Homo sapiens: one gene and its partner. Each later gene encodes a partner of the first gene's protein in a complex. Each region holds a gene or a part of one and is shown in the gene's direction. Other genes may lie near its edges. The genes, in order: ARPP19 and PPP2CA.

Evidence for each region.
Region 2: the proteins of ARPP19 (region 1) and PPP2CA are in contact, whole or in part, in a cryo-EM structure (PDB 8TTB), measured with the Homo sapiens proteins. Residues at the interface, in NP_001293124.1 of Homo sapiens: Phe60, Asp61, Ser62, Gly63, Asp64, Tyr65, Asn66, Met67, Lys69, Ala70, Lys73, Ile92, Pro93, Thr94, Pro95, Leu98, Arg101; in NP_002706.1 of Homo sapiens: Arg89, His118 (codon at 92), Gln122 (codon at 104), Gln125 (codon at 113), Val126 (codon at 116), Tyr127 (codon at 119), Tyr130 (codon at 128), Asp204 (codon at 1,611), Asp205 (codon at 1,614), Pro213 (codon at 1,638), Arg214 (codon at 1,641), Gly215 (codon at 1,644), His241 (codon at 1,722), Gln242 (codon at 1,725), Leu243 (codon at 1,728), Met245 (codon at 1,734), Tyr265 (codon at 2,924), Arg268 (codon at 2,933), Cys269 (codon at 2,936).

What each region holds. Positions count from the first base shown.
Region 1 is NC_000015.10:52,558,704-52,566,236, reverse strand, and holds part of ARPP19 (cAMP-regulated phosphoprotein 19), read left to right. Parts: intron 1-1,990; coding exon of another isoform or gene 1,991-2,047; intron 2,048-7,533. UniProt on the Homo sapiens protein: Protein phosphatase inhibitor that specifically inhibits protein phosphatase 2A (PP2A) during mitosis. Inhibition of PP2A is enhanced when ARPP19 is phosphorylated.
Region 2 is NC_000005.10:134,195,074-134,202,073, reverse strand, and holds part of PPP2CA (serine/threonine-protein phosphatase 2A catalytic subunit alpha isoform), read left to right. Parts: intron 1-52; coding exon 53-226; intron 227-999; coding exon 1,000-1,089; intron 1,090-1,566; exon of another isoform or gene 1,567-1,577; coding exon 1,578-1,739; intron 1,740-2,869; coding exon 2,870-2,988; intron 2,989-4,229; coding exon 4,230-4,302; 3' UTR 4,303-7,000. UniProt on the Homo sapiens protein: Catalytic subunit of protein phosphatase 2A (PP2A), a serine/threonine phosphatase involved in the regulation of a wide variety of enzymes, signal transduction pathways, and cellular events.

The sequences.
Region 1 (7,533 bases):
CAGTGAGCTGAGATCATACCACTGTACTCCTGCCTGGGCAACAGAACAAGATTCTGTGTCAGAAAATAAATAAAATAAAATTTGGCCGGGCACGGTGGCTCACACCTGTAATCCCAGCGCTTTGGGAGGCCGAGGCTGGCGGATCATGAGGTCAGGAGTTCGATACCAGCCTGGCCAATATGGGGAAACCCCCTCTCTACTAAAAAATACAAAAATTATCCGGGTGTGGTGGCACGCACCTGTAGTTCCAGCTACTCAGGAGGCTGAGGCAGGAGAATTGCTTGAACCTGGGAGGCGGAGGGTGCAGTTAGCCGAGATCGTGCCACTGCACTCTAGCCTGGGCAACAGAGTGAGACTGCATCTCAAAAAAATAAAATAAAATTTAAACTAAAACAGATTAAATACAACAAAGCCAGTCTAAATTTTTGATTGTGTGCTTGGTATTTTGCTGAAACTAAATTTCCAATGTATTTGGAATATGGCAGCAATTGTTAAAAGTTGAGGGAGTTTTTGAGTTTGTCAAGTAAACACTCCCCTAGGCCATGTGGTGGCTCAGTTCCCCTTTTAAGAGTAAACTATGAGGTCACTAAGTTTCCAGAGTCATAGATACAATCACATTTTAAGTTCAGCTCCATTCTTTTCTCATTTTCTTGGACAGTTGGAGTAACCTGCTGAGTCTTTGTCAAAGAAAGCTCAGATGCAGAACCCACATAGCACTACTTAGATGCAACGTGGTGATTCAGATTCCCCAGAATATGCTTATATTTGCCTTTGAGATAACCACTGAAGTGAAAACAAAACATTTAAAAGTTTTGAGTACAGATCTCATGAATCTATCAGCAGTAAGCTAAGGCATGTGTACTAGTCCTGGAGGGGAGAAGAGGCAAGTGGAAACTTAAAACAGATAATTCTGGCCCTACAGGGTGGCTCTTGCCTGTAATCCCAGCACTTTGGGAAGCCAAGGTGGGAAGATCGCTTGAGGCCAGGAGTTTGAGACCGGCCTGGGCAACATAGCAAAACCCCGTCTCTAAAATAATAAATCTACACCTGTAGTCCCACCTACTCCAGAGGCTGAGGGGAGGATCACTTGACCTCCAGGAGGTCAAAACCACAGGGACCTTTGATGGCACCACAGTGAGCTTTGATGGCGCCACTGGGTGACTGAGGGAGACCCTGTCTCAAAAAAAAAAAAAAAAAAGATGGTAATTTTAATTGCACTGTGAGCAGCTTATGCTCAGGGACCCTGGTTTATATATCTGTTCTCTCACAGCACTCAACATTGTGCTTGACATTATTTACAAAATGGTTGAATGGATTTTCCTCAGAACTTTTCTGTTAAAACCTTTGCCAAAGTACTATTTCAAAACAAATGACAATGCTAGTACCACAGAGAAGAATAGACCATGGTAAGATGAAAACCTTAGCTTAGACCCACTTAAGAACTCTTGAACGAAACTACAGTGATGTGTGTATATATTTTTTCGTTTGTGTTGTGGCCTTAATTTTTTTTTTAAGATCTCAATAGCAAGTTTTCTAGAGGTTATAAGACTCACCAAACTAATATGTCTTGGAAAGGATACCCACAGGAAAGCTGTCAATGAAATTATTTGTCAGGTAAGAGATACAGGTTGGTGCCTTTATGAGTGGTAGAAGAGGAAAAGAACCTTTATCTGCATTATTTTAATATATCAACCATAAAGAGATATAAATTGTTTTCCCATGCTTCCAGTATTTTAAAAATAGGAGTTCATATTGGTATTTTCAGGAGCTCTTTTGACAACTACTTTTGGTTACCTAAAGGCTGAAGAATGTTTTTGTTATGTTTGAGACAGGGTCTTACTCTGTCGCCCAGGCTGGGGTGCAATGGCACAATGATAGCATATTGCCGCCTTGAACTCCTGGGTTCACCTAGCCTCCCACCTCAGCCTCCAAGTAGCTGGGACTGCAGGTGTGAGCAACCGCCTCATCCATGTTTTCTATTTCTATTCAGAGTGAACACAACATGCTCCCTTGGTCTCTGCAACCATCGATTCCTAACAGCCTAGAGGTAAACCTCAGAAAAGTTTTTAAATGTTTCTCTTAGCCGTCTTAGCAGTTTGCGATACAACAGTTTGTTAGGGTTGCTTCTTTTGTTTGTGCAAGACTTGAATACTTAACTTCTAATCCAGAAGCTGTGTTTACTATAACATAAAATATTAAAGATGAGCTGATGGTGAAATCCTCAAGTGTGAAGAAAGTTTCTTAGCTTTATAGCTTTATGGAAACAAGTACATTGTATTTTTTCATTCAGATGAATGAACTTTTATTGAACATTCATTAAATGCTAGGCACTAGGCAAACAAAGACTTAATAGAATGACAACAGTAATTTTCCATAGAGCTTGATACAGTATTGGTACCTTCCTGGCAGTATCCCAAAGGATTTGTTGGCTTTCATTAATCCTTTCTAGTTATTCGTCAATCAGTGCATCAGTCAACATGTTGCTGAGCAGATAGAGGAGAATTTGCTTAGAGTGGTCAGATTTTTATTGCTGACGTTGCTGTATAACCCTCCTCTGCCGAAGGCTGAAAAGTGGTATCAGTCATTGAGACATAATTCTGCTCAGTGTATAATAGACTACAAAATAATCCTTAGTTATTTGAGTGTCCTTTTTACGTGTATATATTTATAACTTATACCCCACCTATTCACAGAAAGGATTTCTGATGTATTTCAGTGGTACAATTCACAAAAATGCACATGCCGAGACAATAACTATTATTAAAAATACTGTTCTTAAGATTTTTGTTTTTGTTTTTTGGATACATACATCGTATACATGTATCTGTGTGTAAACATGTATCTGTGTTACCATATCCTGGGGTTCCTTTCCCAGCTTGTAGCCAATAGCCAAAAGTTCAGAATTCTGCCTTCTGCGGACCCTATTATCAATTTAGAAGCTACTTACCTAAGTAAATCCATTTACATTACAGCATCTATTTTTAAAATGTAGTAAAATTGCTGTGTAACACAAAGGCTTCTTGGAGAATGAAACTTCAAAACCAGATTTGAATCATAAAAAATACTTCTTCACGGTGGCTCACACCTGTAATCCCAGCACTTTGGGAGGCAGAGGCAGATGGATCACGAGGTCAGGAGTTCAAGACCAGCGTGGGCAAGATGGTGAAACCCTGTCTGTACTAAAAATACAAAAATCAGCCAGGTGCGGTGATGGGCACCTGTAATCCCAGCTACTCGGGAGGCTGAGGCAGGAGAATCACTTGAACCCAGCGTGGGGAGGGGTGGAGGTTGCAGTGAGCCGAGATCGTGCCACCACACTCCAGCCTGGGCGACAGAGTGAGACTCTGTCTCAAAAAAAAAAAAAAAAAAAACTTCTTAAGCTTGCCATATCCACCCCCTTTGTTGGCCCTTTCTATTGTATCTTTTTCATTAATTTCTGCTTTTTATTTCTCCATTTTCTTTGGGCTCCTTTCTTTGTCTAACTTCTTAAATTGGATGCATCGCTCATTGAGATTTAGCTTTCTTCTCTGATATAAGCCCTTGAGAGATACTTGCTATACCTGACAAGTTTTGGTATGTGTAGGGTTTTGTTTGTTTGTTTTTAAAGAAACAGGGTCTCACTCTGTCTCCCAGGGTAGGCTTAAGTGACCCTCCCACCTCAGCCTCCCAAGCAGCCAGGACTATAGGCATATAAGCATCTACCACGACACCTATCTAATTTTTAAATTTTTTTTGTAAAGGCCAAGGTCTTACTGTGTTGCCCGGGTAGGTCTAGAACTCCTATTTTTTTTAAATACTCGTGCTTTCTTTTTTAACCAGGAATTATTTAGAAGTATGTTTTTAATTTCTAAATATTAGAGATTTATAATTTTTTTGTTGTTACTGACTTTAATGAATTGCAGTCATAGATGGTGGTCTGGAAGAAAATAGTTAAGATTTGCTTTATGGCCTAGTATTAGTCAGTTTTTCCATTTGTGCTGTGGAAGACTATGCATTCCCTAATTGTTAGATGTAAAATTAAAATCAAGTATCTTAACTACTTTATCTTTTATAGCTATCAATAATTGAGGAAGCTGTGTTGAATTCCATAGTAGTGGACTTGTCAGTTGCTCCCTATAGTTCTGTCAGTTTTTGCTTTGTATATTTTCATGCCATTTTATTAGTGGCACAGTGGCTCACGCCTGCAGTCCCAGCACTTTGGGAGGCCAAGGCAGGAGGATTGCTTGAGGCCAGGAGTTCTAGACCAGCCTGGGCAACATAGGAAGACCATGTATCTTAATAAAAAAAAAAAAAAAAAAAAAAGTAGGTGCACTGCACTAGCTCTGTTTTGGTAAGGATTTTTTGCCTGGTATGTTACCACCACCACCCACCCTCAGTCTTTTTACTTTCAACCTATGTCCTTGTTTTTAGATTTTTTTAAATGTGTACTCCACAAGTGGCTAGGTTTTTTTTTTTTCCTTAATCCAGCCACTGGATTTAAATGGACAGTCTGTTGCTTCAGTATGGTTATTGTGGTTATTAACATATTGGGATTTGTTTCTCCTTATGTTTGGTTTCTTTTTGGTATTTAAAATTTTTTTTATTTTTCTTCCTTTCTTGCTCTCCCCAACACTCCTTTTTATTTCTGCTATTTAATTGGTTCCCCTTGAAATTTTTCATGCATTCTTAACTAAACAAGATGTAAAAATTAAGATTATAAACCCTTTTCTAAATTATACAGGACCATAGAACACTTAAACTAAAAATATGGTACTGTTATAGTATTCTTTTCTTTTTTAACTCCACATGATAAAGATATTAAAATTACAATATTGACTTGTTATCAGTATATGTGTATGTATATACCAATTTTCTTTGTTTAGTAATAGTCATTCCTGTCCTTTATCCCTTACATCCTAACCTATTTAACCCAAAGCTTGATTAGTTTATGATTTAATCTTTCTGTGATTCTTTTTGGAAAAAATAAACAAATAAATAACTATTGGCTTATCTCCCCTTTGTTTTCATTCTAGCTTAAGTAAATGTTTAGGAATTCCCTTGAGGTCCAGAAACGTGGAGTCACATCAAATTGTGTTCTATTTTGCATTTTTGAACATGACTGTGGATAAATCGCTTATTTTACCTGCTTTTATCAGTGTCCTGTTGGGAGACAGGAGCAGAAACCACTTTGCATGTTTTTAAAAAGGAAGGAATATGATTTTTAGGGAATAAGGTTACAAATTATTAGAAGGAATAGAGGAACAAAAGGGAGGAAGATGGTGTTTCCAGAGGTAAGGATTACAGAAAGCCTTTGACCCTGCAAGGATGAGTACTGTTCAGAGTCCACCATCGTCTGCCTCCCTTGTCGTGTAGCTGCTACTAGAGCCCCTGTTTATCTGCCATATGTCCCTCTGTAGGAGCTCACAGGGGCGACTGCTGTCTGCTGTTGGTGGTGGCATCACCAGGAGCAGAATGGATTCTTTCTCTCATGCCTTTTAATCTGGCATAGATGCCGTTGACAGAACCTAATAAGAACTCAGTAACTGTCAGAATATTAATGCATGTCCAAGCACTTGAACTAACTTATCATTAAGGTCCTAGAACTGCCTAGCTCTGTAGAATGTTTCTGTAGGATTCATGAAAACTTTTGTGGAAGTCTTAATGGTGTTTACCACATTTAAAAATCTAGATTAGGTCATCTTTTCCCCCCTGTTAAATCCAACTGAAATTCTGAATCCAGTTAGGAAGTTGCAGCTAGCAGGGGCTTTCAGTTGTGCTATGTATTTGGCAAGAAAGTTCAAGAATCGGCTTGTTTTTTTCTAAGACATGTTATAAATTCATTCTAAATATAAATGACATTTGCAGCTCATAGATGCTGTTTTACCCAAACATTTTTTAATTTAATTAAGCATGCTTAATATGATATATCAATGTATTCCTTATTAAGAAAACAAGGGAATGCGGCTGGGCCCAGTGGCTCATGCCTGTGATCCAGCACTTTGGGAGGCCGAGGCGGGCAGATGACCTGGGGTCAGGAGTTCGAGACCAGCCTGGCCAACATGGCAAAAAAAAAAGAAAAAGAAAATAAGGGAATGCCCGGATTGTGTACAAGGTATTTTCCTTTATATATCAAATGGAGGAAACCTGCAGAAACACTGGAAACCAGAGTAAGTTGCTACCTACATACAATTTTCCTTTAAAAATTTTTAAGGAATTCGGGGAACTATTAGACTTGGAGAACTATTTCAAATCAAAGGAAGAAGTGGAGAGCTCTCACTTCCTAGGCTCAAGAAAGCTGAATTTTTATTGGAAATGTAGGACTCCAGTAACACCCTTAATTTGAAGGTGCAGGGACTAAAGGGTGACAATTAGCTTGGGATCCTTTTCAGCCAAAATTATTTGAAGCCAGCTGTGCAGGGAAACCCAAGAGTAGGCCTCTCCTCCCACATCCACTTCTAAACTGCAGCACTGAGAACACCCTTGGGCTGCAGTAGATATCTGCAGTGAGGGCTGAGCCACATCGAAGCTGTGCAGTGACTCAGCCCGCCTTCCTACATTAAACTTGGTAATCTTACATTTATGTTTATTTCTCTGGCTTTGGTGATGAATATGGTATAGTCATATCTTACATGGGGTTAGGTTCTAATGTTAGTAAGGGAAAAAAATCACATATAGCTAAAATCACCCTTGACAAAATTCTAGAGAAGGCATAATCATATTGGAGACTGCCCCATCAATTCTCAGTAGAGCAGGTAGTCACTTTTATGTCCAGCGTTTGAACAGATGGCTAGATGGCTAGGGTGATTCTTAAGTTGAGTGCTAGCTAAGGTAATAGGCTTGTATTGTACGGGCTGAGATTTTAAACACTGCAATGATAAACAGCATGTTGATGTACTTATGCTCTGCAAGATACCCAACGAGAGACTAACGTGGGAATGGCAGGTTTGCATCACATACCTCACACTTACCTCTCTGGAGCATACCCTTCTTGAATGGAATGACTGGTAGACTCACCACTATTTAAATTCTCTATTTCTGGCTAAGTGCACATAATTGAATGTCGTGCATGTCAAGTGAGTGAATGACGTGGCCACTGTAAAGAGATAACATAAATGGATGAATCTGCAACATAAAAAGAGGCTCCACAGAAAACAGTATTTGACAGAAGCAGCTTTTTTCTCAAAATTCTCCGAGACTGAAAATGAGAAGATCTAACAACAAATGAAGAAGCAGTTCAGGATGAAATACTGATAATATATAAAGTGAATGAAGCTGATTATAAAACATGTATGAGAGCTGGATGTGGTGGTGCATGCCTATAATCCCAGCACATTGGGAGGCTGAGGTGAGAGGATAGCTTTGAGGCCAGGAGTTCAAGACCAGTTTGGGCAATATGGCCTGACCTGTAATTTTTTCCCCCCCGTGGGTACAAAGGGAAGGGAAACAGGATCTTCATCTTTTTTTTTTTTTTTTAATGTATGAATATAATTTTGAGTGAAATATATGCCAAAATTTTATGAAGTTTTTTTTTCTTTCAGTGCTTAGATAGATAAA
Region 2 (7,000 bases), on another chromosome or scaffold:
CATTGGTTTTTGAAAGAGCTAGTTGTTTATGTTTTGCATTTTATTGTTTTAGGTTCGTTACCGTGAACGCATCACCATTCTTCGAGGGAATCATGAGAGCAGACAGATCACACAAGTTTATGGTTTCTATGATGAATGTTTAAGAAAATATGGAAATGCAAATGTTTGGAAATATTTTACAGATCTTTTTGACTATCTTCCTCTCACTGCCTTGGTGGATGGGCAGGTATGTGGATCTAAAACTCATTGCTGATTATTTCAGAGAATCTGCTTTCTTTAGTGTTCAGGTGCTTATGACTCTTTCCACTCTTAACACCCCTTTGGGGATATTTTTTAATAGATATTGATAGCATTCATTCAAACTTAAAAAAAATTTAATTTGACAAATGTGTCCAACTTTTTTAAGTGCATTATTCTTTATATCAGGCACTGAACTGTATGGTGGGATCACAGGGGTGGGTGATGTAGCCCATTTACCCTCTCAGACTGTTTTTGGACAAGTCTGGGAGATGTAAGGAGCTAATTATTGGCCTAGGTAGATGTGCACACAAAAGAACTTACAATAAAATTTTATGAGTATGAAGATACTAGTCTCTGGCAAAGGGCAGGAGTGATATCCAAGAAGTTTTCTCAAAGGAGCTGTTTGAAGTGGAGTCTGGTTGTGACAGCGATGGTCTATTAGGAAGAACAGGAGTGTACTCAATAGTTCAGAGTGGGCTGGAGCAAAGATGAACCCTGCAAAGTCAAGTCTCATTCAGGCAGAGCACAGAAACACCAGAGGGGCCAAGTGATGGGGGTGCCCAGCTCATTTTTTAAAATTTTTGTAGAGACACAGGGTCTTGCTGTGTTGCTCAGGTTGGTCTCAAACTCCTGGCCTCAAGCAGCCCTCCTGCCTCAGCTTCCCAAAGTGCTGGGGTTACAGGCATGAGCCACTGTGCCCAGCCAAGAATGTTTACAAATTTTTTAGGTGAGGTTAACCTTTTAAACCACTCTTTTCAGATCTTCTGTCTACATGGTGGTCTCTCGCCATCTATAGATACACTGGATCATATCAGAGCACTTGATCGCCTACAAGAAGTTCCCCATGAGGTATGACTTTTATTTGATAAAATTCTTTCAGAAAACTTATTAGGGAGTGGAGAAGTTTAATTGTAAGTTCATTAGATGTATTCTCTCATATAATTCTCAAAAACAACTTGAGGTGTGAGCACTCTTGTCTGCCCTGTTGTTCAAAAGAAGCTGACATTAAGAAACCTGCCAAGATCACAACAGCTGTGAAGCTGGGCTTATTAGGACCTGGGTTGTCTGTCTTAGACTCTGAAATTTGCATAATATAGGCAGATTAATTAGGGCATGTTGCTGCTGGGTCCCATGGATGTCAGCTGTGTCTCATAAAGTCTGCTGGAAAATACATCTTATTTGATGCAGATGTTTGACTTCAACTGCACAGTCTATTAGCATTGTCCACAAACATCACTCAAAAAGGGTGGCTTAGGGTGCTGCTTCTGATGAATTACTCAAATAATGTGTTAACCATGTTTGTAAAAGGCATTTTATAACTTGAAGTTATTTTTTAGGGTCCAATGTGTGACTTGCTGTGGTCAGATCCAGATGACCGTGGTGGTTGGGGTATATCTCCTCGAGGAGCTGGTTACACCTTTGGGCAAGATATTTCTGAGACATTTAATCATGCCAATGGCCTCACGTTGGTGTCTAGAGCTCACCAGCTAGTGATGGAGGTATGCTGTGTTCTCTGAAATATGACTTGTTTTTTTAGTAAACTTAAGGAAAGAAGATATTAGGGAGTTTTAAATTAATGACATTTGTGAGAAATTCCATCTATTCCTTCTGATGAGTTTATCATTATAGCCTGAGCCTTTTCAGTAGATGCACACTACTAGAATTAAAAGCTCAAGCTTTTGATTACAATGAATCCATTAACATGTTTTCAGAGAAATCTGAATGACTAGGAAGTACTTGAGATTTAAGAGTGGGAAAGTAAGATATAGGGAGTTGGTGTGCATGTATGATATTTTATGATCCCAATGTTATTTCGTATATTTAATGTATGTATGTAGGAGAGACTGGAAAGAAATACACGAAAATGTTTTAAGTGGTCCTTTGGATGCTAGGATTACAGGTGATTTGAAAGAAGGGAAAGAGGCAAAGGTTCTTGACATGGCACACTGATTAGAATATTTTTAAAATAAGGTCCTAATTAGATTAATACTAGTACAACTCTGTGGTTATCAATAAAATCTGACTTTGCTAAAGGTAAAGAAATTGTGAACAATACTAAACAAAAAGTAACAAAAGTAGCTCATGCATTCAGGTGGATGGACTTTGAGGAAATGAGGCTGGAGATCCTAGAGGCATATTGCATTTGTTCCTGGGCAGTGACCAACTTAACAGGCCTTTACCTGTGACTGACAAAATTGGTAAGGTTCTGGTCTCCAGGATTAAGTATCTACTTCTCTAGGGAATGGCCACTTAAATACTTATTCTTAAATCATGTTTTAAGGCCACTGCAAGAGAAGAGGCTAATGAGACATTGTCATTTACAGCAAGGCAGATACATGAGAAGTATTTCATTCTTTGGTGGTTGCTGCTGTTTGTTAAAGCCTTTTTTTTTTTAAAGTACTAAAAAAAAAACAAGTTTTGTAATTAGGGGGAAAATAAATACATGTGTACCTTACAGGTTGTATAAAGTACAGGAGATTATTAAGTCATCCAGAAAAAAAGCATTAACATTTCTTAAGCCCCTTTGGCAGGGGTGGGAATGAGTAGAGATTTTTTTCTCTCTTGAGTGAAGTAACATTTAGTTGAATTGAGGGAGTAAAGTAAGATTTTTGTCTCCTTTTCCTTGCAGGGATATAACTGGTGCCATGACCGGAATGTAGTAACGATTTTCAGTGCTCCAAACTATTGTTATCGTTGTGGTAACCAAGCTGCAATCATGGAACTTGACGATACTCTAAAATACTCTTTGTAAGTAATTCTACCTGAACATTTTCTTGCATTACTGAATATGTAGGGTTTTGGTTTATTTATTTTGAGAGAGAGGGTGTCACTATATTGCCCAGTCTTGTCTCGAACTCCTAGGCTGAAGTGATCCTTTCACCTTGGCCTCCTAGAGTGTTGGGGTTACAAGTATAAGATACAGTGCCCAGCCTGAATACATAGTTTAAATGTGAGGTTTAAGAGTTTAAGGGGGCCAGGCGCGGTGGCTCATGCCTGTAATCCCAGTACTTTGGAAGGCTCGGGTGGATCACCTGAGATCAGGAGTTCGAGACAAGCCTGACCAACATGGTGAAACCCCTTCTCTACTAAAAATACAAAAATTAGCCCAGCATGGTGGCGCCTGCCTGTAATCCCAGCTACTCAGGAGGCTGAGGCAGGAGAATGGCATGAATCCGGGAGGCAGAGGTTGCAGTGAGCCAAGATCGCGCCACTGCGTTCCAGCCTGGGCAACAGAGCGAGACTTCGTCTCAAAAAAGTGTTTATTAAGGGATTATGCTATGTCAGATTCCAACTTTTATTTTTAAGTTTTGTTTTTTTTTTAATGGATCTACATTGAAACACACCAACAGGAACTTATTATATATAGATCTTCGTATGAATTACTAGGTTTTTCACTTTTAAAACCATGTTTTGTGTTTTTTTGTTGTTTGTTTGTTTTTTGAGACGGAGTCTCACTCTGTCACCCAGGCTGGAGTGCAGTGGTGCGATCTTGGCTGACTGCAAGCTCTGCCTCCCGGGTTCACACCATTCTCCTGCCTCAGCCTCCCGAGTAGCTGGGATTACAGGCGTCTGCCACCACGCCCGGCTAATTTTTTTGTATTTTTTTAGTAGATATGGGGTTTCACCGTGGTAGCCAGGATGGTCTTGATCTCCTGACCTCGTGATCCGCCCGCCTCAGCCTCCCAAAGTGCTGGGATTACAGGCGTGAGCCACTGCGCCCGGCCAACCATGTTTTGTTTTGTTTTGTTTGAAATTTCAGTCAAGGTAAAAACCATGTTTTTATAAAAGCATAGTCTCTGTGGCTGAAGTTGCCTTGACTCTTTCAAGGGGAGTACAGTTAACAGACCATTATCATTAAGGTTCTGTTACATTAAGACAAGCCAAAATTGAATAGGAAGTGTAAAGTTTGGAAGACTCATGTTCTTGATCTTGATTGTCACTACATGGAGGTCGTGGAACATAAACCATGAATCGGTCTTGTTTTTCAGCTTGCAGTTTGACCCAGCACCTCGTAGAGGCGAGCCACATGTTACTCGTCGTACCCCAGACTACTTCCTGTAATGAAATTTTAAACTTGTACAGTATTGCCATGAACCATATATCGACCTAATGGAAATGGGAAGAGCAACAGTAACTCCAAAGTGTCAGAAAATAGTTAACATTCAAAAAACTTGTTTTCACATGGACCAAAAGATGTGCCATATAAAAATACAAAGCCTCTTGTCATCAACAGCCGTGACCACTTTAGAATGAACCAGTTCATTGCATGCTGAAGCGACATTGTTGGTCAAGAAACCAGTTTCTGGCATAGCGCTATTTGTAGTTACTTTTGCTTTCTCTGAGAGACTGCAGATAATAAGATGTAAACATTAACACCTCGTGAATACAATTTAACTTCCATTTAGCTATAGCTTTACTCAGCATGACTGTAGATAAGGATAGCAGCAAACAATCATTGGAGCTTAATGAACATTTTTAAAAATAATTACCAAGGCCTCCCTTCTACTTGTGAGTTTTGAAATTGTTCTTTTTATTTTCAGGGATACCGTTTAATTTAATTATATGATTTGTCTGCACTCAGTTTATTCCCTACTCAAATCTCAGCCCCATGTTGTTCTTTGTTATTGTCAGAACCTGGTGAGTTGTTTTGAACAGAACTGTTTTTTCCCCTTCCTGTAAGACGATGTGACTGCACAAGAGCACTGCAGTGTTTTTCATAATAAACTTGTGAACTAAGAACTGAGAAGGTCAAATTTTAATTGTATCAATGGGCAAGACTGGTGCTGTTTATTAAAAAAGTTAAATCAATTGAGTAAATTTTAGAATTTGTAGACTTGTAGGTAAAATAAAAATCAAGGGCACTACATAACCTCTCTGGTAACTCCTTGACATTCTTCAGATTAACTTCAGGATTTATTTGTATTTCACATATTACAATTTGTCACATTGTTGGTGTGCACTTTGTGGGTTCTTCCTGCATATTAACTTGTTTGTAAGAAAGGAAATCTGTGCTGCTTCAGTAAGACTTAATTGTAAAACCATATAACTTGAGATTTAAGTCTTTGGGTTTTGTTTTAATAAAACAGCATGTTTTCAGGTAGAGCTTAAACTAAATGATGTGTTTACTTAGTGCAGTTTCTGGTTATGAATATTATATTGCTATGTGTATATTATATGGACTCTTTAAAATGATTGACAGATTGGCAAATTCTTAAATCTTTGTACATTGTTGAGTCATATGTTCTTAGAGTTAAATTTGTCTCAGATAAGAAAGTGTTAAAGCATTAGCCTGTGTCAAGTTCTTTGAGTGATACTAGTGAAACCAAATAGAAAACTATTGTTGGATCATGATTTAGTCTTATGTACATTCACCCGAAGACAAAAATGGTACTTAAAGTGGCAGTGTTCAACATTTAATGAGTTTTTCCCCTTTTATCCTTCGAATAGGATTAGATGTTTAAAAAAAAGTTCTTCTGTGGGAACTAATATTTGATATTTTAACCTACCAGAGTAAACAGGAACACTTAATCATACTTGTGAGTGTAGTAAATAAAAGTTTTCTTGCTTTGTGCTGTGTTGAATCTGGAACCAACAGGGAAGTTATAGCATATCCCCTTTCTAAAATGCTTGAGGAACACATACATACCGAATGTCTTTTCTGATCTAATTGATAGTATTTTTAGTGGCTTGTGGAGTTAATTTTCCAAAGCAAAAGGCCATTAGGGTTTCTACATTTCATTTCATTTCATTCTTTTCTTTCACAAGAAATACATTCTCTGTGTGTCTTTTTGTTGCTCTGTCACTCTATGCCCTTTCTCTCCGACTGAACAAATAGCTTATCCATGTGCAGTGGTTTTAATACCCAAACAATCTAGACACCAAGCAGCTATTTTTTCCGGTCCTGTGATATCAGAATTGACCAAGGAATACGTATATTGTAATTGACACGTGGTGGTATCTTCCAGGTACAAATTCTCTAAATTTTGTGGTTAGCAGAATGGGACTTGTGATAAGAATAGCTTGGTTTTAGCATAACTAGGGTTTAAAATAATTGTTTAATTATAGAGACTGACCGGGCTTTGGCCATCTAAACTGGAAAGTGTTAGTACCCTACCTTCTTTTGAAAATGGCTATGGTAAGGAAAATGTGTTAGTAAATTATGTATTTTCTTGAAAAATACATAATTATGGTTGGATGGGAATCACTAAGTTGGGTGTTAACTGATGTCTCAATTAGTAACATTAGGATTTTCATTAATAAACCTAAAAAGCTTTCCCTAAGAACAGGCCTGGCACAGTGGCTCATGCCTGTAATCCCAGCACTTTGGGAGACCAGGGTGGGTGGATCCCTTGAGGTCAGGAGTTGAAGAGCAGCCTGGCCAACATGGCAAAACCCCATCTCTACAAAAAATATGAAAATCAGCCGGGCTTGGTGGCATACCATAGTCCCAGCTACTTGGGAGGCTGAGGTGAGAGGATCGCCTGAGCCCAGGAGATGGAGGTTGCAGTGGGCTGAGATTGTGCCACTGTACTCCAGTCTGGGTGACAGAGCCAGACCCTGTCTCAAAAATAAAGAGGATTCTGAGTTTGTATAGTGAGGGCTTGCAGAAATTTTGAAACTTATTTTGTAAGTTTACAATGAATTTGTACATGATGTGCTCATGTCTTGGGTTGAGTATCCTAGACATGATTTTTTCATTTGCTGCATATTAAACATTTGTTGGTTGTAGTCGGTATTTCTTAAATAGAAGTTTGTCAAT